7 linked regions of the Homo sapiens genome follow. The protein of the gene in region 1 purifies or fractionates together with the protein of each later gene. This does not show direct contact. Each region holds a gene or a part of one and is shown in the gene's direction. Other genes may lie near its edges.

What was found.
Region 2: the proteins of VCP (region 1) and STIP1 purify together in Homo sapiens (affinity purification with mass spectrometry; 4 studies listed by BioGRID, with this or other methods). This does not show direct contact.
Region 3: the proteins of VCP (region 1) and BAG6 purify together in Homo sapiens (affinity purification with western blotting; 4 studies listed by BioGRID, with this or other methods). This does not show direct contact.
Region 4: the proteins of VCP (region 1) and SERBP1 purify together in Homo sapiens (affinity purification with mass spectrometry; 3 studies listed by BioGRID). This does not show direct contact.
Region 5: the proteins of VCP (region 1) and CANX purify together in Homo sapiens (affinity purification with mass spectrometry; 4 studies listed by BioGRID, with this or other methods). This does not show direct contact.
Region 6: the proteins of VCP (region 1) and PSMA4 fractionate together in Homo sapiens (co-fractionation; 5 studies listed by BioGRID, with this or other methods). This does not show direct contact.
Region 7: the proteins of VCP (region 1) and TUBA1C purify together in Homo sapiens (affinity purification with mass spectrometry, with the first as the bait; 3 studies listed by BioGRID). This does not show direct contact.

Annotation. Positions count from the first base shown.
Region 1 is NC_000009.12:35,062,626-35,066,125, reverse strand, and holds part of VCP (transitional endoplasmic reticulum ATPase), read left to right. Parts: intron 1-744; coding exon 745-875; intron 876-1,840; coding exon 1,841-1,972; intron 1,973-3,045; coding exon 3,046-3,148; intron 3,149-3,500. UniProt on the Homo sapiens protein: Necessary for the fragmentation of Golgi stacks during mitosis and for their reassembly after mitosis. Involved in the formation of the transitional endoplasmic reticulum (tER).
Region 2 is NC_000011.10:64,189,171-64,192,670, forward strand, and holds part of STIP1 (stress-induced-phosphoprotein 1), read left to right. Parts: intron 1-3,500. UniProt on the Homo sapiens protein: Acts as a co-chaperone for HSP90AA1. Mediates the association of the molecular chaperones HSPA8/HSC70 and HSP90.
Region 3 is NC_000006.12:31,646,162-31,649,661, reverse strand, and holds part of BAG6 (large proline-rich protein BAG6), read left to right. Parts: intron 1-34; coding exon 35-152; intron 153-266; coding exon 267-463; intron 464-697; coding exon 698-751; intron 752-910; coding exon 911-985; intron 986-1,835; coding exon 1,836-2,071; intron 2,072-3,138; coding exon 3,139-3,268; intron 3,269-3,500. UniProt on the Homo sapiens protein: ATP-independent molecular chaperone preventing the aggregation of misfolded and hydrophobic patches-containing proteins.
Region 4 is NC_000001.11:67,410,357-67,413,402, reverse strand, and holds part of SERBP1 (SERPINE1 mRNA-binding protein 1), read left to right. Parts: intron 1-139; coding exon 140-196; 3' UTR 197-3,046. UniProt on the Homo sapiens protein: Ribosome-binding protein that promotes ribosome hibernation, a process during which ribosomes are stabilized in an inactive state and preserved from proteasomal degradation.
Region 5 is NC_000005.10:179,708,967-179,712,466, forward strand, and holds part of CANX (calnexin isoform d precursor), read left to right. Parts: intron 1-11; coding exon 12-93; intron 94-906; coding exon 907-1,099; intron 1,100-3,500. UniProt on the Homo sapiens protein: Calcium-binding protein that interacts with newly synthesized monoglucosylated glycoproteins in the endoplasmic reticulum. It may act in assisting protein assembly and/or in the retention within the ER of unassembled protein subunits.
Region 6 is NC_000015.10:78,543,444-78,546,943, forward strand, and holds part of PSMA4 (proteasome subunit alpha type-4), read left to right. Parts: intron 1-746; coding exon 747-824; intron 825-1,425; coding exon 1,426-1,514; intron 1,515-2,190; coding exon 2,191-2,321; intron 2,322-3,131; coding exon 3,132-3,255; intron 3,256-3,500. UniProt on the Homo sapiens protein: Component of the 20S core proteasome complex involved in the proteolytic degradation of most intracellular proteins. This complex plays numerous essential roles within the cell by associating with different regulatory particles.
Region 7 is NC_000012.12:49,271,582-49,275,081, forward strand, and holds the end of TUBA1C (tubulin alpha-1C chain), read left to right. Parts: intron 1-671; coding exon 672-1,646; 3' UTR 1,647-3,019; downstream 3,020-3,500. UniProt on the Homo sapiens protein: Tubulin is the major constituent of microtubules, a cylinder consisting of laterally associated linear protofilaments composed of alpha- and beta-tubulin heterodimers.

The DNA of each region.
Region 1 (3,500 bases):
GAGACAGAGTGTCGCGCTGTCCCCCAGGCTGGAGCGCAGTGGTGCAATCTCGGCTCACTGCAACCTCCGCCTCCTGGGTTCAAGCAATTCTCCTGCCTCAGCCTCCCAAGTAGCTGGGATTACAGGCGTCTGCCACCACGCCCGGCTAATTTTTGTGTTTTTAGTAGAGACGGGGTTTCACCATGTTGGTCAGGCTCGTCTCGAACTCTTGACCTCAGGTGAGCCACTGTGCCCGGCCGCTAGACTCATTTTCATATATTTGTATACACACACATGCAAACCCTGCACACATATTCATATGTCTTACCCTCTTTTTTTCCTCCATCCTTCCTTTGCTCCATCTCTCCCCTTCTCTGTTCCAGGAGAGTAAGCTATCTTTATGGATCTCTGAAGGAGAAAGTGGTCCATTTTGGCTGGGTCAGGGTCCAGAGTGCACAGTTCTACCATTGGTGGTTGTAGTGAAAACTTGGGCTACCTATATGGCAGAAGTCAGAACTTGATGGGCTTCTGACATGTCAGGTTTTGTTCACTGACCTCTTGTCAGAGGGACTCTTCACAGTTTACCTTTCTCATCTTGCCTGCTGCTTATTAAGACAGGTGGGGTGGAGTTGGGGAGAGGTAGGGCAATATCTAATGAAGGGCACTATCTAATGAGCTTGGCATTTTGACCCCAGGGTCTGATGAGTTCTCACTTTGTCTTGTAGTTGACACCTCTAACTGTGCTTGTACTGTTTGCTCTCGCAGGAGACATTTTTCTTGTCCGTGGTGGGATGCGTGCTGTGGAGTTCAAAGTGGTGGAAACAGATCCTAGCCCTTATTGCATTGTTGCTCCAGACACAGTGATCCACTGCGAAGGGGAGCCTATCAAACGAGAGGTGAGTTTTCTCCCTGATTCCAGTATCCGATTTTATGATTACTCAGTGTGGCATCATGTGGTAACTGTCAGGACTGGGTGCTCGGCCGGCTGCGGTGGCTGACACCTGTAATCCCAGTACTTTGGGAGACTGAGATGGGCAGATCACTTGAGGTCAGGTGTTCAAGACCAGCCTGGGCAACATGGTGAAATCCCATCTCTACTAAAAATACAAAAATTAGCCAGGCATGGTGGTACACATCTGTAATCCCAGCTACTCAGGAGGCTGAGGCAGGAGAATCGGTTGAACCCAGGAGTCGGAGGTTGCAGTGAGCTGAGATTGTGCCACTGCACTCCAGCCTGGGTGACAGAGTGAGACTCTGTCTCAAAAAAGAAAAAGACTGGGTGTTCTTTGGAGAACTAACCATCTTTCAGGGATGAGAAACCTGCCAGCTATTCATTTCTGGGCCTAATTGTTTCTTGGATTTACCTAATGCCAGGAATTTCAAAAAACTAGACTGAACCCAAAATATATAAGTGATTGAAATCATTTTTGAAGTAAAGCTGATGGTGGCTTCAGGCCTCTGCCCATTCCCAGGGTTTCCAGCTTCAGATTTTAGAGACCCCTTCTCAGTAAGACTACGAGTAATGTGAGAGGCAAGGACTGTGCTAGAAATCTTTGCCTTGGGATTTTTGTAGTTGTTCTTTGAGGCCGGATCCCTTTAGAGGAGAATCTTTTTTAAATTTAATTTAATTTTTAATGAGATGGAGTCTTGCTGTATTGCCCAGGAACTCCTGGACTCAAGCATTCCTCCCACCTCTGCCTCCCAAAGTGCTGGGATTACAGATGTGAGCCACCATGCCGGGTTGAGAATCTTCTTATACGGTAGGTTTTTGCACACTAGGTAGTGGAATGATTTAGAGAAACTCAGCTTTTGCTGATATAATATTCTTGCCTTCTCCTTTCTTTATCTCCTCCATATTCAGGATGAGGAAGAGTCCTTGAATGAAGTAGGGTATGATGACATTGGTGGCTGCAGGAAGCAGCTAGCTCAGATAAAGGAGATGGTGGAACTGCCCCTGAGACATCCTGCCCTCTTTAAGGCAATTGGTGTGAAGGTGAGCATCCTGGGCTCTGGAATCAAGTCTAAAGTGGTGCCAATGTCTAATCCTGTCCCAATGTCTAATCCTGGGACTGTTTTCATGCATGGCTTTCATTATTGCCTTGGATTAGAGGGGCAATAACGTATCCTTTAGTTTACCTAAGGCTCTAAATTCATTAGAGCTGATGGTCTAAAACCAGAGTAGGCTAATCAAATTGTCTGTTGTGTGCGTGTGCGCACAAAACACACACACATATATATATGGGTTTTTCTTTACAACTCTTAGAATATAAAAGCCATTCTTGTATCAATGGACCCTGTAAAAACAAATCTCACCATAGTTTGCCAGCCTGTCTAGAGCAATGTCACCCAGTAGAAGTAAGGAAGTTAAGGAAATTTTCAGAGTGTTAAAGGGTTCTGAGTCTAAAACATTTGAGAACTATTGGTCTAGAGTGTAGCTTCTCAATCTTTTCCTAGTGGGAAAGTGTTTCCATGGAACACACTGAAGATGAAGTTACTCATTTTCCTAGTGGGTGGCACACAAATAATTTCATTTTCTATGTGGACAGTTTACATGTTCTGCTTGTGGATGAGGCCATAGAAAGGGTAGTGTTGAAGAAGAAAAATGATGATTGTAAGGAACAGCATTCCAGTGTGATAAATTCTGGAGGGCATGATTACTGGAGTGAGTGATCCTCTGGCAATGAAGAAAATAGACCCTGCTCTCTTAAATGGCTTAGCTAGTCTTTGGCCCTTGGTCTGTCTAAAATTGAGCCCTTAGTGTAATGGCCTCTTGCCTTTCCCTAGTCATGTATCTTCAAACGCATTTGGACTACAGTTTCTCTGCCCTTAGTCTCCTATGCAAGTTGCAATCATAAATGTTGCCCACTTTCTAGCAGTATTTTCCCTGCTAGTAATAGAAATGAGTGTGGCCTAAAGTAATTGTCTTCTTAGCATTTACTGCGGAGGGCTTATTCTTAATATTGTCAGGGTTGAAGCCTGATTCTCACCCTCTCTGGAGCGCTAGTCAAGCCATTTTAGGGTTTGGGAGAAGGTGGGAACCTAATCACACTCTGCATTGGTCCACAGCCTCCTAGAGGAATCCTGCTTTACGGACCTCCTGGAACAGGAAAGACCCTGATTGCTCGAGCTGTAGCAAATGAGACTGGAGCCTTCTTCTTCTTGATCAATGGTGAGATATTTGGTTCATCTTATGTCTAGCTAGACCCAATTTTGAACTGGGCTTATGAGCTGGAGCACTTATGAACACATCCTTTTTGCACCCATGCCCTCCTTCATGTTTATAGCATATTTCTTATGCTGGGGTATGTTACAGACAGAAGAGCAATAAAGGGAAGATATTTTACATTGGTGCTCCCTGTCCTGCCCCCTTTGAGAAAGATTGTGGACAGACTGCAGAGCGGGAGCAAGCTAGAATGAGAAATCAAAGGGTGAATGGTTAGTGATTTGAGAGGGTTTGGGGCAAATGAACTTTGATCACTGGCTCTTGGAGAATGCTGTTTAGTGGTGTGCCATCTGGTGTG
Region 2 (3,500 bases), on another chromosome or scaffold:
GCCAATATGGTGAAACCCTGTCTCTATTAAAAATACAAAAATTAGCTGGATGTGGTGGCACGCGCCTGTAGTCCCGGCTACTTGGGAGGCTGAGGCAGGAGAATCGCTTGAACCCGGGAGGCGGACCTTGAAGTGAGCCGAGATTGCGCCACTGCACTCCAGACTGGGTAACAGCGAGACTCCGTCTCAAAAAAAAAAAATAAATAAATAAGCGGACATTGTGGTGCGCGCCTGTGGTCCCAGCTACGTGGGAGGCTGAGGCAGGACAATTGCTTGAACCTGGCTGGTCGAGGTTGCAGTGAGCCAAGATTGCGCCACTGCCCTCCAGCCTGAATGACAGCGAAACTGCATCTCCAAAAAAAAAAAGTTGGACAGATTTTGAATGTTCAGGCTTTTTTTTTTCAATAGGGGCCTTTCAAATCCCACAATGATACACTTCTTACATTTAACCCAACACAGGCGTACAGCCATGTAACACATTCAGCAAAACAGTATTTACTGTTATGTGCACTGTGTGCTGGTATTTTTTTGTCCCATTTGGTCTCTTAAAATGCTGGTCATGACCTACAAAATTGATTTCCTGACCCACTGTTGATCAGTACTCTGTTTGAAAAATGCTTTTCTAAAGCATAGGCAGGAACTTCACCAGCTGCCTCTTGACACCACTTGAGTTTTGTTAACTCTTCGTCTTCTGGCCTCCATCTTGGGCTCTAGGATTTTTTATCCCTTGTTTGCTTAATTTGGCAGGTTCCTTCTGCCCTTGCCTCTGTAAGGTCTCTGATTGATGGAAGTTCCTGATCTCTCTATTTGAGGATTCCAAAATCATTTCTCTCTTTTTTTTTTTTTTCCAAATAGAGTCTCACTCTGTCCTCCAGGTGAGAATGCAGTGGTGCAATCTCGGCTCACTGCAGCCTCCGACTCCCAGGTTCAGATGATTCTCCTGCCTCAGCCTGCTGAGTAGCTGGGACTACAGGCATGCACCACCACATCCGGGCAATTTATTTATTTATTTATTTTTTTGAGACTGAGTTTCGCTCTTGTTGCCCAGGCTGGAGTGCAATGACGCAATCTCAGCTTACTGCAACCTCCGCCTCCCAGGTTCTAGCAATTTTCCTGCCTCAGCCTCCCAAGTAGCTGGGATTACAGGCATGCACCACCACGCCCGGCTAATTTTTTTTGTATTTTTAGTAGAGACGGGGTTTCTCCATGTTGAGGCTGGTCTCGAACTCCTGACCTCAGGTGATCTGCCCACCTTGGCCTCCCAAAGTGCTGGGATTACAGGCGTGAGCCACTGCACCCGGCAGCAGCTAATTTTTGTATTTGTAGTAGAGACGGGGTTTCACCATGTTGGCCAGGCTGGTCTCGAACTCCTGACCTCAGTTAATCTACCCGCCTCAGCTTCCCAAAGTGCTGAGATTACAGCCTAAAATCATTTCTCTTGACAAAACTATTTCTTGCATCAATTTACTGGGTCGTGGGTGGATAATACATAGAATGAGTTAGTAACTTCGGTGACAACTCTATCTCACAGAACGTTTACCTCTTAAAAGTGTATTTTGGCCTGGTGTGGTGGTTCACCTTTGGGAGACTGAGGCAGGAGGGTTGCTTTAGGCCAAGAGTTTGAGACAAGCCTGGGCAATATGGTGAGACACCATTTCTACCACAAAAAGAAAAAAACATTTAGCCAGGCATGGTGACACACACTTGTAGTCCCAGCTACTTAAAAGGCTGAGTTGGCCGGGCGCAGTGGCTCATACCAGTAATCCCAGCACTTTGGGAGGCCAAGGCAGGCAGATCACCTGAGGCCAGGAGTTCAAGACCAGCCTGACCAACATGGAGAAACCCCGTCTCTACTAAAAATACAAAATTAGACGGATGTGGTAGTGCGTGTCTGTAATCCCAGCTACTCAGGAGGCTGAGGCAGGAGAATCGCTTGAACCTGGGAGGCAGAGGTTGTGGTGAGGCAAGATTGTGCTATTGCACTCCAGCCTGGGCAACCAGAGTGAAACTCTGTCTCAAAAAAAAAAAAAAAAAAGGGCTGAGTCAGGAGGATTGCTTGAGCCCAGGAGCTCAAGGTTACAGTCAGCTGTGATCATGCCACTGCACTCCAGGCTGGTAACAGAGTGAGATGCCATCTTTAAAAAAAAATAAATATGGCCAGGCGCGGTGGCTCACGCCTGTAATCCCAGCACTTTGGGAGGCTGAGATGGGTGGATTAAGAGGTCAGGAGTTCGAGACCAGCCTGGCCAACATGGTGAAACTCCATCTCTACTAAAAATACAAAAATTAGCTGGGCGTGGTGGCGGGTGACTGTAATCCCAGCTACTCAGGAGGCTGAGGCAGGAGAATCGCTTGAACCTAGGAGGCGGAGGTTGCCGTGAGGCAAGATTGTGCCACTACACTCCAGTCTGGGGACAGAGCAAGACTCTGTCTCAAAAAATAATAATAATAAATACAATGAGCTTCTCAAGGGGTTGCCTGCCCTCAGGTAGGCTGCTGTGGGGCACCTGACCTTTTGTGGGGCAGCTCAGTAAGGAGAAACCCTTTAGTGAGGACACTGTTCTGACAGGGCCAAGGCCTGCCTCACTTTTTTTTTTTTTTTAATGAAAAAGTAAAATTTAATGTGGAAAATGCAAACTTGGGGAGGGCAGAAAGATCACACACAAGGCTGTCACTTCACACTTGGAGGGTTGCACAGTGGCCCAACAGAGGCACACCTCACTTGCCAGACGGTGGGGCAGGTGGGCAGAGGTGCTCCTCTCTCCCCAGTCAGTTGGGTGGCCGGGCAGAGGCGCTCCTCACTTCCCAGTCGGTGGGGCGGCCAGGCAGAGCTGCCTCACTTTTTAAAACTGCTGTATCCCACCGGGCGCGGTGGCTCACACCTGTAATCCCAGCACTTTGGGAGGCCAAGGCGTGTGGATCACCTGAGGTCAGGAGTTTTAAGACCAGCCTGACCAATATGGTGAAACCCCGTCTCTACTAAAATTACAAAAATTAGCCAAGTGTGGGGGTGTGCGCCTGTAGTCCCAGCTACTTGGGAGGCTGAGGCAGGAGAATCGCTTGAACCTGGGAGGCGGAGGTTGCAGTGAGCCGAGATCGTGCCACTGCACTCCAGCCTGGGTGACAGAGTGAGACTCTGTCTCAAAAAACACAACAAAACAAAACCCCGCTGTATCCTTACTTCTTGCACTTTATATGTTTGAGAAGGGAGAGGTTTAAACCACAGTAGCATTTCTTCATCCTCCATCCCCTTTGTAATGTAATATTTAAGAATGGCAGGAATCAATTTGGGGAGCTAGCTTGACTGTTACCCATTAATGAACATTTATCTATCCTGTGGTGACATGTTGCCACACCAGGAAATGGAGACTGGTTCTTCCCTGATGGGAGGAGATGACAACTATGCCATAGGCAAGCATCTTGCCGCTCCCAAGAAAGAGAAGTCTCCGCTGCCATCCCACAGCCTTTGGGTCACTGGAGCATGTATCAGTGCCACTCCG
Region 3 (3,500 bases), on another chromosome or scaffold:
TCTTTCCATTCCTGTGCATGCCTCTTCTTTTCAGATGAATGTAAAAGAGTTTAAGGAGCACATTGCTGCCTCTGTCAGCATCCCATCTGAAAAACAACGGCTCATTTACCAGGGACGAGTTCTGCAAGATGATAAGAAGCTTCAGGAATACAGTAAGGGGGCTGGGGAGGCAGTTCAGAGGTTGGGGCTACTGTCTGGAGGGATGAACTGAGGCCATGGGTTTACCTGTTCATACTATGTTTTGGTGTGTGTCTATTTTTCTGCAGATGTTGGGGGAAAGGTTATCCACCTGGTGGAACGGGCTCCTCCTCAGACTCACCTCCCTTCTGGGGCATCTTCTGGGACGGGGTCTGCCTCAGCCACTCATGGTGGGGGATCCCCCCCTGGTACTCGGGGGCCTGGGGCCTCTGTTCATGACCGGAATGCCAACAGCTATGTCATGGTTGGAACCTTCAATCTTCCTGTAAGCTTATGTTCCACAGGGGAGGGCTTTTGTGGGTAGCTTTGGTTGTGGTAGCACCAGGGAATTAATAAGATAGATGCTTCCATCTTTAGATTGGGTTCAGGGGGCCCTGTGGTGTGCTATTGGTCTCAGTCTTTAAGGAGAAAAGGAGGTAGGGCTCCAGGGAATGAATTGGAGGTGTGGAGGCCTTAGTGTTGGCTTCTCCCAGAACAACTTCCCTTACCCTTTCCCCAGAGTGACGGCTCTGCTGTGGATGTTCACATCAACATGGAACAGGCCCCGATTCAGGTATTGAGGGGCCTCCGAGGGTCAGGGAAGGGGATCTGGGAGAAGGAGGCTGGGAGGTGGGGTGGACCTGGCTGAGAGATGGCTGGGACCTGATTTAGTAGGTGGTAGAACTCATGGCTTCATCTGTAACCTACCCTGATAAACCTTCTCTCATTGTAGAGTGAGCCCCGGGTACGGCTGGTGATGGCTCAGCACATGATCAGGGATATACAGACCTTACTATCCCGGATGGAGGTAAGTGGGCAAGGCTGGCTAGGGTCTCTCTCCACCCTCCCTCTCCCTTTTCTCTCAGCCTGGGAGTTAGGGCTTCACTGGCCACATCCACAGGGTTTGGCCTTCATAATCTAGTCTTCTCTGCAGTATTCATTCTTTTGGGCAGAAAAAGTATCTTTGTGAGGCTCTCTCATTTCTGCCAATCCTCTTGGTGCCTGGTATCTGGGGAGTTTGTTTCAGACTTAGTCTCATGGCATCTCTTTTCAATTAAAGGATTCTACTCTCTTAACTTGTGGAGGCTGGGAAACCAACTTGTGGAGGAAAGGAAACCACAATCTCTACTCTTTGTTAGAAATTTATTTACAAATATTACAGATGCTGTGGCCGGGTGTGGTGGCTCCTGCCTGTAATCCCAGCACTTTGGGTCGCCATGGCAGGGGGATAACGTGTGGTCAGGAGTTCCAATCCAGCCTGGCCAACATGGTGAAACCCTGTCTCTACTACAAGTACAAAAATTAGTTGGGTGTGGTGGCACGCGCCTGTAGGCCTGGCTACTTAGAAGGCTGAGGCAAGAGAATTTCTTGAACCTGGGAGGCGGAGGTTACAGTGAGCTGAGATCATGCCACTGCACTCCAGCCTGGGCAACAGAGCGAGACTCTGTCTCAAAAAAAAAAAAAAAAATTACAGATGCTTATTATGCATCTAATTTGTGTCAGTCTTATGCTAGTTGCTAGCGAGTCGGAGATAAAATTGCAGAGCCATGCCTTCAGGGAGTCTAGTTAGGATACTTTCTCTGTTCAGTCTCCTGTAGAGTAATCCTCTGCAGCAGTCTTACCCTGCCTTTGGTATCCTGACTCTCCCCTACCTTCAGTGTCGAGGAGGGCCCCAACCGCAGCACAGTCAGCCGCCCCCGCAGCCACCGGCTGTGACCCCGGAGCCAGTAGCCTTGAGCTCTCAAACATCAGAACCAGTTGAAAGTGAAGCACCTCCCCGGGAGCCCATGGAGGCAGAAGAAGTGGAGGAGCGTGCCCCAGCCCAGAACCCGGAGCTCACTCCTGGCCCAGCCCCAGCGGGCCCAACACCTGCCCCGGAAACAAATGCACCCAAGTGAGAGATGGAGGGAATCTTTAGTGGGTGGGGAATCCTAAGTGAAGTATGGGGAGAAGGAAATGAACCATGGCAAGGGAGGGAAAGGATTACTTGGAGGTCTTAGTTGAAGGGTTAGCATTGAGGGGCGAGGAGGGGCTCTCTCGGTATAGGTAAATGACGCTAGGACAGGCAGCTGAGAAGAACTGCTGCTCTCCCTACGGCAAGGAAATCCAAATGGTATCTCCTGAGCCTGATCGGAATTCTCCTCTGAGTTCACGAAGGCCTGCTCTCTTTCTTAGAATTAGTCTTTCACCATTGTAGGTGCAGGATTGTGGTGGGGAGGGTGGGAGCAGTTCATTTTCTTCTCCCTATCCTCTCATGGGTGGGAGTAAAGAATAGAAGCTTTGGCTGGGTGCAGTGGCTCATGCCTGTAATCTCAGCACTTTGGGAGGCAGAGGCGGGCAGATCACCTGAGGTCAGGAGTTCGAGACCAGCCTGGCCAACATGGTGAAACCCTGTCTCTACTAAAAAATACAGGCCGGGCACAGTGGCTCACGCCTGTAATCCCAGCACTTTGGGAGGCCGAGGCGGGTGGATCATGAGGTCAAGAGATCGAGACTATCCTGGCTAACATGATGAAACCCCGTCTCTACTAAAAATACAAAAAATTAGCTGGGCATGGTGGCGGGCACCTGTAGTCCCAGCTACTCGGGAGGCTGAGTCAGGAGAATGGTGTGAACCCAGGAGACGGAGCTTGCAGTGAGCTGAGGTCGCACCACTGCACTCCAGCCTGGGTGATAGAGCGAGACTCTGTCTCAAAAAAAAAAAAAAAAAAAAAAAAACAAAAATTAGCCGGGTGTGGTGGCAGGCAACTTAATCCCAGCTACTTGGGAGGCAGAGGCAGGAGAATCGTTTGAACCTGGGAGGCGGAGGTTGAAGAGAATAGAAGCTCTGCTGGTCCAGAGAAGGATTGGGCCAGGGCTCTGGGAGACCAGGGAGAAAGAGGGCACATGTGGTCCCTGTTGACTGTGAGGGTGGGAATCTGAGGAAGGCTTTGGCTCATTGCCCCTTGGGTTTGTCCACAGCCATCCTTCCCCTGCGGAGTATGTCGAGGTGCTCCAGGAGCTACAGCGGCTGGAGAGTCGCCTCCAGCCCTTCTTGCAGCGCTACTACGAGGTTCTGGGTGCTGCTGCCACCACGGACTACAATAACAATGTGAGCCCTTTGATGGCCCTGCCCTTTCTCCTCAGCCCCAGTACTCCCAAAACAGAACAGGCTGAAATGCAGATAACTCTTTCCCTCCCTGGAAAAACATTGCAACAGGGCCAGGTGCAGTGGCTCACGCCTGTAATCCCAGCACTTTGGGAGGCCAAGGTGGGCGGATCATCTGAGATTGGGAGTTTGAGACCAGCCTGGCCAACATGGTGCAACCCCATCTCTACTGAAA
Region 4 (3,046 bases), on another chromosome or scaffold:
CGCTGGGATTACAGGTGTGAGCCACTGTGCCTGGCCAACAGTAAGATTTTTTTAGAGTTCTGTCTTAATGTAGACACTAGCTAACAATGTAATTTTGAAGAACTGAGAACTGTGGTTAATTTTGGTTTTTCTTTTTCAGTCAAGTGCTTCTGCTCCTGATGTGGATGACCCAGAGGCATTCCCAGCTCTGGCTTAACTGGATGCCATAAGACAACCCTGGTTCCTTTGTGAACCCTTCTGTTCAAAGCTTTTGCATGCTTAAGGATTCCAAACGACTAAGAAATTAAAAAAAAAAAGACTGTCATTCATACCATTCACACCTAAAGACTGAATTTTATCTGTTTTAAAAATGAACTTCTCCCGCTACACAGAAGTAACAAATATGGTAGTCAGTTTTGTATTTAGAAATGTATTGGTAGCAGGGATGTTTTCATAATTTTCAGAGATTATGCATTCTTCATGAATACTTTTGTATTGCTGCTTGCAAATATGCATTTCCAAACTTGAAATATAGGTGTGAACAGTGTGTACCAGTTTAAAGCTTTCACTTCATTTGTGTTTTTTAATTAAGGATTTAGAAGTTCCCCCAATTACAAACTGGTTTTAAATATTGGACATACTGGTTTTAATACCTGCTTTGCATATTCACACATGGTCAACTGGGACATGTTAAACTTTGATTTGTCAAATTTTATGCTGTGTGGAATACTAACTATATGTATTTTAACTTAGTTTTAATATTTTCATTTTTGGGGAAAAATCTTTTTTCACTTCTCATGATAGCTGTTATATATATATGCTAAATCTTTATATACAGAAATATCAGTACTTGAACAAATTCAAAGCACATTTGGTTTATTAACCCTTGCTCCTTGCATGGCTCATTAGGTTCAAATTATAACTGATTTACATTTTCAGCTATATTTACTTTTTAAATGCTTGAGTTTCCCATTTTAAAATCTAAACTAGACATCTTAATTGGTGAAAGTTGTTTAAACTACTTATTGTTGGTAGGCACATCGTGTCAAGTGAAGTAGTTTTATAGGTATGGGTTTTTTCTCCCCCTTCACCAGGGTGGGTGGAATAAGTTGATTTGGCCAATGTGTAATATTTAAACTGTTCTGTAAAATAAGTGTCTGGCCATTTGGTATGATTTCTGTGTGTGAAAGGTCCCAAAATCAAAATGGTACATCCATAATCAGCCACCATTTAACCCTTCCTTGTTCTAAAACAAAAACCAAAGGGCGCTGGTTGGTAGGGTGAGGTGGGGGAGTATTTTAATTTTTGGAATTTGGGAAGCAGACAGCTTTACTTTGTAAGGTTGGAACAGCAGCACTATACATGAAATATAAACCAAAAACCTTTACTGTTTCTAAATTTCCTAGATTGCTATTATTTGGTTGTAAGTTGAGTATTCCACAGAAAGTGGTAATTATCTCTTCTCTCTTCCTCCATTAGAAAATTAGGTAAATAATGGATTCCTATAATGGGAGCATCACCACTTATTAAAACACACATAGAATGATGAATTAAAAAAGTTTTCTAGGATTGTCTTTTATTCTGCCACATTTATTGATAAACAGTGAAGGAATTTTTAAAAAATTTTTAAGAATTGTTTGTCACGTCATTTTTAGAAATGTTCTACCTGTATATGGTAATGTCCAGTTTTAAAAATATTGGACATCTTCAATCTTAAACATTTCTATTTAGCTGATTGGTTCTCACATATACTTCTAAAAGAAACTTTTATGTTATAAGAGTTACTTTTTGGATAAGATTTATTAATCTCAGTTACCTACTATTCTGACATTTTAGGAAGGAGGTAATTGTTTTTAATGATGGATAAACTTGTGCTGGTGTTTTGGATCTTATGATGCTGAGCATGTTCTGCACTGGTGCTAATGTCTAATATAATTTTATATTTACACACATACGTGCTACCCAGAGATTAATTTAGTCCATATGAACTATTGACCCATTGTTCATTGAGACAGCAACATACGCACTCCTAAATCAGTGTGTTTAGACTTTTCAAGTATCTAACTCATTTCCAAACATGTACCATGTTTTATAAACCTCTTGATTTCCAGCAACATACTATAGAAAACACCTGCTACTCAAAACACAACTTCTCAGTGTCATCCATTGCTGTCGTGAGAGACAACATAGCAATATCTGGTATGTTGCAAGCTTTCAAGATAGCCTGAACTTAAAAAGTTGGTGCATTAGTTGTATCTGATGGATATAAATTTGCCTCCTAGTTCACTTTGTGTCAAGAGCTAAAACTGTGAACCTAACTTTCTCTTATTGGTGGGTAATAACTGAAAATAAAGATTTATTTTCATGCTCACTTCTTAAAAGTCATAAAAACAATCAAATAGGATCATGTTTATTGTCATGTGTTTCCTGGTTTCTGACCTGTGTGCACACCCCTGTGTGTTTATAATTTTTAAATTGAATTTTATATGGGGTTTTTATTTGCTAAAAACCAGGCTGTTGAATCACATTTGGGAAGGGTACTTATCTTAATGACTAATGACTTAATTGGGAAAGTTGAATTCTTGTAAAATACAAAATCCAAGGACTTCTTGGATTTAATCTGATTGTCACTTCTTAGCAGATCACTTTTTTGATAATGAAAGTTAAGCATACTGAATGCTACTTTTGATTGACAAACTGGCTATAATAGTCTAGGGGAAAAATCCCTAAACAGATAAAGATTCCTAAAGTAATGGTGGCAGCTGATGTTTCAGTGAACTTTTATCTTGATGCGTTTAAATGGAAGTAATGCCAGACCTGAGATTTTTAAGGCATTTTTACAGCTTGTATTGAAATGATTGGAGACATGGTTTCTTTATTAGCTATTTTGAGACCTGTGGAGTTAAGCAAGACTTTTAAAAATTGGCACCATATACATCTAGTTAGTTCCTTTACTCTTATTTTTTTAAATAAAAGTAGTACACATCATTTCCAGGGTTGTAAATATATTTGGGGCTTGTTTTTGGTATGGATTTAAAAGGAGGATATTAAGTATTCATTCTAATTT
Region 5 (3,500 bases), on another chromosome or scaffold:
TCTGATATTAGGTATGAGGTTAATTTCCAAAATGGAATAGAATGTGGTGGTGCCTATGTGAAACTGCTTTCTAAAACACCAGAACTCAACCTGGTATGTAATTCCCATTTCTGGAATGTGGCTGGACACCCACTATTACCTTGTAAGAATTTTGTAATTGGGCCGGGTGCAGTGGCTCACGCCTGTAATCCTAGCTCCCAGCACTTTGGGAAGCCAAGGCAGGCGGATCACGAGGTCAGGAGATTGAGACTATCTGGCTAACATGGTGAAACCCCATCTCTACTAAAAATACAAAAAATTAGCCAGGCGTGGTGGCAGGCGCCTGTAGTCCCAGCCACTTGGGAGGCTGAGGCAGGAGAATGGCATGAACCTGGGAGGCGGAACTTGCAGTGAGCCGAGATTGCGCCACTGCACTCCAGCCTGGGCGACAGAGCGAGACTCCATCTCAAAAAAAAAAAAAAGAGAATTTTGTAATAATTGTGAAAATAAAGGCTTCCTCCCCTGCTGTTTAACTCTTTTGATGAGTTGGGAAAATTGACTTTGACGCTAACGTGCTTTTTATTTGAAGTGTAAATTACAAAGTTGTTACCAACTGTTTTTATCTGAATTTCTGGTTTTGCTTCTGTGTAAGTTTTAGTTTTGGCAAGCTTATTTCTTTGTTTTATGAGGAAGCAATAACTGTCTAGATGTGTGCATTACTTTTTTTTAGACACTTAAACGTTATTTTAAATTTACTGATGATTGCTGGTTATTCCTTTTTACTAAACAAACTTGTAGTTAGCTTTTCCTTTAACTGTCACTAATATATTTGGAATTTTATAAGAGGAATTATCATACACTTTTGAAACGTTGCTTTTGAACACTTTGAGTACAGTGACTTCAAATAATCCTTTTTTGTTTTTGAAGGATCAGTTCCATGACAAGACCCCTTATACGATTATGTTTGGTCCAGATAAATGTGGAGAGGACTATAAACTGCACTTCATCTTCCGACACAAAAACCCCAAAACGGGTATCTATGAAGAAAAACATGCTAAGAGGCCAGATGCAGATCTGAAGACCTATTTTACTGATAAGAAAACACATCTTTACACACTAAGTAAGAAAAAGCATTAGTTTGGGGGCTTATGGTATTACATATATATCATCCATTTAATTTAAAGATTGTATATCTGGCCGGGCACTGTGGCTCACGCCTGTAATCCCAGCACTTTGGGAGGCCGAGATGGGCAGATCACCTGAGATCAGGAATTCGAGAACAGTCTGGCCAAAATGTTGAAACTTCACCTCTACTAAAAATACAAATATTAGCTAGGCATGGTGGTGCACGCCTGTAACCGAAGCTAGTTGGGAGGCTGAGGCAGGAGAATTGCTTGAACCTGGGAGGGAGCCAAGATCATTGTGCCACAGCATTCCAGCCTGGGCGAAAGTGAGACTCAATCTCAAAAAAAAAAAAAAAGGCTGGGCGCGGTGGCTCACACCTGTAATCCCAGCACTTTGGGAGGCCGAGGCGGGTGGATCACAAGGTCAGGAGATCGAGACCATCCTGGCTAACATGGTGAAACCCCGTCTCTACTAAAAATACAAAAATATTAGCCGGGCGTGGTGGTGGGCACCTGTAGTCGCAGCTACTTGGGAGGCTGAGGCAGGAGAATGGCACGAACCCGGGAGGCAGAGCTTGCAGTGAGCCGAGATCGCGCCACTGCACTCCAGCCTAGGAGACAGAGCAAGACTCCATCTCAAAAAAAAAAAAAAAAGATTGTATATCTGGAGAGTACCCCAGCCTCCAAACAAGAAGAATCTCAGCCTGGTATGGTTGCTCATGCGTGTAATCCCAGCACTTTGGGAGGCTGAGGCGGGCGGATCACTTGAGATCAGGCATTCGAGACTAGCATGGCCAACATGGTAAAACCCCGTCTCTACTAAAAATACAAAAATTAGCTGGGCGTGGTGTTGAGTAGCTGGTGTAATCCTAGCTACTCGGGAGGCTGAGGCAGCAGAATTACGTTAACCCAGGAGGCAGAGGTTGCAGTTGAGTCAAGATTGTATCACTGCACTCCAGCCTGGGTGGCAGAGGAAGATTCTGTACCCCCTCCACGAAAGAAAAGAATCTCTTCACTTTAGTATCTTAGTTGGGAAATGACCTTAATTTGTCAGCATTAAAAGAAGCTTCTTGGCCACGTATGGTGGCCCACACCTGTAATCCTAACACTTCGGGAGGCTGAATCGGATGGATTGCTTGAGTCCAGGAGTTCCAAACCAGCCTGACAACATAGTCAGACCCTGTCTCTACAAAATCTTAAGAATTAACTGAGTATAGTGGCATGTGCCTGTAGTTTCAGCTACTCAGGAGGCTGAGGTATGAGGATTGCTTGAGCCCAGGAAGTCGAGACTGTAGTGAGCCATGATCTTGCCACTGCACTGTAGCCTGGGTGACAAAGTGAGATGCTGTCTCAAAAAACAAAACAAAAAACCCAAAAAACTTCTTTTCCACAGGAACTGAGGTTCGAGATAATTTTAAGAATAGAATAGGTGTTTTTGGCCAGGCATGGTGGCTCGTGCCTATAATCCCAGCACTTTGGGTGGCCGAGGTGGGCGGATCACCTGAGGTCAGGAGTTTAAGACCAGCCTGGCCAACATGGTGAAGCCCCATCTCTACTAAAAATACAAAAATTAGCCGGGCATGGTGGAGGGTGCCTGTAATCCCAGCTACTCAGGAGGCTGAGGCAGGAGAATTGCTTGAACCCTGGAAGCGGAGGTTGCAGTGAGCCAGATTGTGACACTGCACTCCAGCCTGGGCGACAGGAAGACTCTGTCTCAAAAAAAAAAAAAAAAAAATTGGTATTTTTTGCTGGACATGGTGGCTCATGCCTGTAATCCCAGCACGATGGGAGGCTGAGGCGAGCAGATCACTTGAGGTCAGGTGTTCAAGACCAGCCTGGCCAACATGGTGAAACGTCATCTCTACTGAAAATACAAAAATTAGCCGGGTGGGGTGGTGGGCGCCTATAATCTCAGATACTCAGGAGGCTGAGGCAGGAGAATCACTTGAACCCGGGAGGCGGAGGTCACGGTGAGCCAAGGTCATGCCATTGCACTCCAGCCTGGGCAACACAGTGAGACTCCGTCCCCCACTCCAAAAAAAAAGGTGTTTTTTTTTTTTTTTTCTACAAAGAGCTTTGCTGATCTAATTTCTTCCTTTTTTTTGTTGTTGTTGTTGAGAAATGTTGAATAATAGAATAAGTTATATTTATAATTATACATAAATCCAATAAAAATAGTTTTTCAGAAGTATCTTGTAGTTGAACTTATTTGGATGCTCCAATACCTGGACAATTGACAATTGAGTTGAATCATTTTGATACAGGGTTTTTTTTGGTTTGTTTGTTTATTGAAGCTTTTCCTGCTAGTTTGAGATCATAAATAGGCATGCCTCTTTCTGAAGAATATAATAACCTTTTTTTTTTTTGAGATGGAGTTTCACTCTTGTTCCCCAGGCT
Region 6 (3,500 bases), on another chromosome or scaffold:
GGAGCCTAGCCCTGTACTTCCTAAGCAGGCTTGTAAACCCTCCTGCCATTGTCCCCTGTCACCTCTGTCAAGCCAGGCCTTAGGAAATGAATATTACTCAAGAGCAGTCTGTCTAGCAAAATCTTTTTTTTTTTTTTTTTTTTGAGACAGATTCTTGCTCTGTCACCCAGGCTGGAGTACGGTGACGCCATCTTGGCTCACTGCAGCTTCTGCCTCCTGGGCTCAAGTGATCCTCCCACCTCAGCCGCCCAAGTAGCTGGGACTATAGGTGCGCACCACCACACCCAGTTAGTTTTTGTATATTTTGTTGAGATGGGATTTTGCCGTATTGCCCAGGCTGTTCTTGATCTCCTGGGCTCAAGCCCTCCATCTACCTCGGCCTCCCAAAGTGCTGGGATTACAGGCGTGAGCCATTGTGGCAAGCCTGTCTTTTTATTCTTTGTTGCTGAATCTTCTTGAGATTACATTAGCTTCTTGGCGTTAATTTTGTTATCCTATTCATAGGTGGTAATGATAAATACATCTATTAAATAACTTAAAGGGTGCATTTGTTTATCTTTCATGTTGAGTGACATCGAGTAAACATCTCCTACAAAGATAAAACTTGTAGGTTTTTTCTGAAGGAAGTAGCTGTTGTGAAGCAAACATAGTGAATTTCTAATAGAAATTAGAATTTTTTAAATACTTATAAACACTCCTTGCAAGCATCTTCCCTGCTTACAGATCAATGTCTTTTTTTCTTCAAGGGACATGGCTTGCAGTGTGGCAGGCATAACTTCTGATGCTAATGTTCTGACTAATGAACTAAGGCTCATTGCTCAAAGGTATGGTCATAAATAGCATAACTGATGATACAGAAATTAGTTTTGATGTTTCTTTTTTTTTTTTTTGAGACAGAGTCTCACTCTGTCACCCAGGCTGGAGTGCAGTGGCACGATCTTGGCTCACTGCAACCTCCGCCTCCCGGGTTCAAGCGATTCTCCTGCCTCAGCCTCCCAAGTAGCTGACCACCACACCGGGTTAATTTTTGTATTTTTAGTAGAGACGGGGTTTCACTGTGTTAGCCAGGATGGTCTCGATTTCCTGACCTCGTGATCCGCCTGCCTTGGCCTCCCAAAGTGCTGGGATTACAGGCATTAGCCACTGCACCTGGCCTAGTTTTGATGTTTCTAAGGAGAGCTCACTTTTGCAAAGATTAAAGTCATTAAAAATCTTTGAATTGAAAATTACAGATTTTTTTCAACCAAACTTACAAAATATTATTTACTATGAGAATATTCAGATGTTGACTTGTTCCCTCCCCTTCAAATTACAAATGACTGTTAGGTTGTCCCCATGGCATAGATTGCTTTTCAGAGAATATTTTCCTTAGAGTCTGTCTGTGTTTTAGAGAAAACTACTAATGTGCCCATCTCTTTATCCTAGGTATTTATTACAGTATCAGGAGCCAATACCTTGTGAGCAGTTGGTTACAGCGCTGTGTGATATCAAACAAGCTTATACACAATTTGGAGGTATTTAATTTTTTTGAAAATTTTATTCGAAAAAGTTAAGACATTTTATGAGTTATAACCCTTTTGAGGTAGTAAAAAATTGAAAATAGACCCTTTGTTTTAAATTAAATTTAATTTTTTTAATTGGCAAATAAGAATTGTACATATTCATGAGGTACATAATGATGTTTCAGTGCACATAATGATCAGATCAGGGTAAATGGCACATTCATCATCTCAAACACTTGTGTTGGGAGCCTTCCATATCCTTCTAGCTATTTGAAACTAATATGTTATGGTTAACTATATTAATCCTACAGTAGTATAGAACACTAGAATTTCATACATTCTTGCTTCATGAATGAACGTGTTCCTCCACCATGTAGATTACCCTCGTTTTATTAATAGGATATTGAAAGTCCAAAACAACATTTTCAAATCTGGAAACTAACTGCTGTTTACATAATAATGAAATTCAGCACTGGTCCTTTGTCTGTTCCCTCTTCTGGCTGTGTCCAAATCGTAGAAACAAAAGTCGAATTTGTAATGGAGCTTATCTATGGTAGCCAGAATACAAAACAGTTTATGAATGCTTAAGTTCACAGAGTAGGGTTTAGCTACCTTCACTGAGCTCAAGTAACTGTAGTGATACTAAATTTAGATTATTGATATGTTTGGCTTTTTTTCTTTGTTAAAGGAAAACGTCCCTTTGGTGTTTCATTGCTGTACATTGGCTGGGATAAGCACTATGGCTTTCAGCTCTATCAGAGTGACCCTAGTGGAAATTACGGGGGATGGAAGGCCACATGCATTGGAAATAATAGCGCTGTGAGTATTTTTGTTGTGCTATAAAATCTAGCAGAATGTCTAATAACTGCCATAATTTTGCCATGGTGATGAATGTAAACAGTATTTTAAGATAGCTGCAACAACCTTAATGTGATATGGAAATATCTGTGATTTCTGTTGGTGACAGCATTGCTGATATAGCTAATATACTGGGGTTCGTTAACTACATTAATAAATGCTAATTTTCAGTTAGGAGTTGTGAAATTAGAAGCTGTGATTTTGTTTCACATCTAGTTTACAGACCCCCTGTATTCTATGACAGACCCCTTGGGAGACTGAGGACCCCAGGTTAAAGACACTCTTTATAGAGCATTAGTACCCCCTCTTCTCACCCCGTGCCGTGTGTGCCCTCCCTGTCATCAAAATTATGTATATGGGCCAGGCATGGTGGCTCATGCCTGTAATCCCAACACTTTGGGAGGCCGAGGCAGGCAAATTGCTCGAGCTCAGGAGTTCGAGACCAGCCTGGGCAACATAGCAGAACCCCATCTCTACAAAAAATACAAAAATTTGCTGGGCGCCATGGCATGTGCCTGTAATCCTAGCTACCCAGGAGGCCAAGGTGGGAGGAGGAGCACCTGAGCCTGGGGAGACTTGAAGATACAGTGAGCTGAGATCATGCCACTACACTCCAGCCTGGGCAACAGAGTGAGCCCCTGTGTCAAAAAAAAAAAAAAAATTGTTTATACTTGTAATGCCAATAATAATTCAGGCATTTTTCTTCTAGACCAATTCATGTTTCTAAAAAATGTAAAAACTTAAAATTCTATGTTGATTCATGTTTTATAGGCAGCTGTGTCAATGTTGAAACAAGACTATAAAGAAGGAGAAATGACCTTGAAGTCAGCACTTGCTTTAGCTATCAAAGTACTAAATAAGACCATGGATGTTAGTAAACTCTCTGCTGAAAAAGGTAATTCATATCCTCTCCTTTAATTCTTTCGACTGAGTGAGGGAAATTAGCAGCTGTTAAGATTTTTTTCTTTTTTTTTTTTTTTTGAGATGGAGTCTCGCTCTGTTGCCAGGCTGGAGTGCAGTGGCGCAATCTCAGCTCACTGCAACCTCCGCCTCCTTGGTTCAAGTGATTCTCCTGCCTCAGCCTGCCGAGTAGCTGGGACTACAGGCTCGCGCCACCATGCCCAGCTAATTTTTGTATTT
Region 7 (3,500 bases), on another chromosome or scaffold:
TGAATGTGGTCATACAGTAAGGAACTGGTACAGCCGGATCCTGACACAGCCTGACTCCAGTACCAGGGTGTTAGAACTTTGGCTATTCTGTTGTTCCACCTCAGAAAGCAGCTGCCAAATCTTTACAAGACATCCACTGTACCAGGCTGGTGGTCCTGGGCCTGCCCCTTAGGACCTCTCCAACTAAGAAACTGCCCTGTTCTGTGGCCACAGCAAGAGAACCAGAGGCTGCCTTCCCAGTTACCAAAACTTGAGCCCTGTATGCAAGCCCAGGCCTTGTGATTCCTCTGCCTAAGGCAATAGTTCATCTTAAAATAGTCTTAGCAAAGGTTTTTCTGCTCAAGGACTTGATTGTGAAAAGTTGTTCTGAATCACTTAGCACTTAAAAGCTTTTTTTTTTTTTTGGAGACAGGGTCTGCTCTGTCATCCAGGCTGGAGTGCAGTGGCCTGATCATCAGTCTTGAACCCCTGGGCTCAAATGCAAATGGTCCTCCCACCTTGGACCCCCAAAGTGTTGATTACAGGCGTGAGCCACTGCGCCTGGCCCAGAAGAGTTTTAAAATTGCAATTGGAGTAGCCATAGATTTATAGAAGTCCTCTGTAGGTTTCACCAAATGTGAACACTAAATGAAACTTTCGCAACACTAAAATGAAACTTTTTTATTTTGCAGGCTGACCAGTGCACCGGTCTTCAGGGCTTCTTGGTTTTCCACAGCTTTGGTGGGGGAACTGGTTCTGGGTTCACCTCGCTGCTCATGGAACGTCTCTCAGTTGATTATGGCAAGAAGTCCAAGCTGGAGTTCTCCATTTACCCGGCGCCCCAGGTTTCCACAGCTGTAGTTGAGCCCTACAACTCCATCCTCACCACCCACACCACCCTGGAGCACTCTGATTGTGCCTTCATGGTAGACAATGAGGCCATCTATGACATCTGTCGTAGAAACCTCGATATCGAGCGCCCAACCTACACTAACCTTAACCGCCTTATTAGCCAGATTGTGTCCTCCATCACTGCTTCCCTGAGATTTGATGGAGCCCTGAATGTTGACCTGACAGAATTCCAGACCAACCTGGTGCCCTACCCCCGCATCCACTTCCCTCTGGCCACATATGCCCCTGTCATCTCTGCTGAGAAAGCCTACCACGAACAGCTTACTGTAGCAGAGATCACCAATGCTTGCTTTGAGCCAGCCAACCAGATGGTGAAATGTGACCCTCGCCATGGTAAATACATGGCTTGCTGCCTGTTATACCGTGGTGACGTGGTTCCCAAAGATGTCAATGCTGCCATTGCCACCATCAAAACCAAGCGTACCATCCAGTTTGTGGATTGGTGCCCCACTGGCTTCAAGGTTGGCATTAATTACCAGCCTCCCACTGTGGTGCCTGGCGGAGACCTGGCCAAGGTACAGAGAGCTGTGTGCATGCTGAGCAATACCACAGCTGTTGCCGAGGCCTGGGCTCGCCTGGACCACAAGTTTGACCTGATGTATGCCAAGCGTGCCTTTGTTCACTGGTACGTGGGTGAGGGGATGGAGGAAGGCGAGTTTTCAGAGGCCCGTGAGGACATGGCTGCCCTTGAGAAGGATTATGAGGAGGTTGGAGCAGATAGTGCTGACGGAGAGGATGAGGGTGAAGAGTATTAACCTGTGTGCTGTACTTTTACACTCCTTTGTCTTGGAACTGTCTTATTTTTGTTCTGTAAATGTCTATTGCCGTAAATTGTTAATAAAATTGAAGTTTCCATTTTAAATGTCGAGCTGACTTAAATACTTGATCCAGTTAAAGTTGGATGTATGAGGCTGGTAGATGAAACCACCTGAGTCGAGGGTCTTGCTCTGTCACCCAGGCTGGAGTGCAGTGGCATGATAATACATAGCTCATTGCAGCCTCGAGCTCCTGGACTCATGTGATTCTCCTGCTTCAGCCTCCTAAGTAGCTGGGGACTGCAGGTGCACACCACCATGCCCAGCTATTTTTATTTCTTGTAGAGATGGGGCCTTGCTATGCTGCCCAGGGTGGTCTTCAACTGGCTTCAAGTGATCCTCCTGCCTCAACCTCTCAAAGTTTTGATTATAGGCATGAGCCACTGCCCAGCTTCTTGGTTTATCTGTTTAATTTGGGCCTGAATTAAGTGGTTATAGAATCATTTTGTAAGTGAGGAAACGGGTTCAGATTGAGCCAGTGCTTCTCTAACTAAAATGGATGTGAATCACCTGTAGATATTAAAATGCAGGTTTGGGGTCAACCTGGTGGCTCATGCACTTCGGGAGGCCAAGTTGGGTGGATCACGAGCCCAGGAATTCGAGACCAGCCTGGGCAACATGGTGAAAACCCATCTCTACCAAAACAAAAATTTGCATGCTGTGATGGCACCTGCCTATAGGTGGGAGGACCACCTGAGCCCAAGGAGGTTGAGGTAGTGAGCCATGATTGCACCACTGCATTCCAGCCTGGGTGACGGAGACCCCTGACTCTCAAATTTAAAAACAAAATGCAGGTTCTAATTCTATAGGCTTGAGGTGAGGCTTCAGACACGTCTTAAATTTTTTTTCTTTGAGATGGTCTCTTTCCCAGGCTGCAGTGCAATGGCACCATCATAGCTCACCCCCACCTTGACCTGGGCTAAGCCATCCTCCCACCTCAGCCTCCCAAGTAGCCAGGACTACAGGTGTGTTCCACCATGCCTGGCTGATTCTTGTAATTTTTTTTTTTTTTTTTTTTTTTTTTTTTGGTAGAGATGGGGTTTTGCCATGTTGCTTAGGCTGGCCTTGAACTCCTGGGCTCAGGCAATCCTGCCTCAGCCTCCCAAAGTGCTGGGATTACAGGAGTGAGCCACTACACCTGGCCCCTAGATACGTTTTTTAATAACCTCCCAAATGATGCTGTTGGTCTGATGTGACCACATGTACAGTAGCAAAGGGTTAGATAACAGTAACTGCTGGAGCCAAAATTCAAGTGCCCAGCCACACTGCCAGAACTATTGCTGTCAGTCTTTAATAAAGTATTAGTCACACGAGAAGGGCTTGGAATCCTGATTTATTCCATACTTAGCTAAGACCTACAGTGGCAAAGATGGTTCGTACTAAAGGGGTTATTGTTTAGAGAAAGTGGAAATGTCAGACAAAATAACAGTCACCGGTTTTTCTGGTATTGGCATTTGACCCAATTGTATGTCATGGAGATTATTTGAAGTAGGAGTAATATGTATGTGTAGGAAAGATTGGAGAGGGGTGAGTTCTCTGATTTGGACTTTTTTCCAAGCACCTGTTGGAGGACCGTGGTTCTTGGGGGCAGACGGGTGAAGGGGCATGAGTGTTATACGTAGCTGGAGAGCTTGGTGCCTGGTACTCAGTTGAACTAAGCAATGGGAAAGGACAATGACCAAAAGGTGAAGCTTCATGCAGAAGGGAGGAATCAGTTTTGGTGCTTGGGTGCTTGCCTGAGTGGGAATGCCTAATGAGTGGTAGCAGATGGGCCCTGGGGGCAGAGTTGCAGGC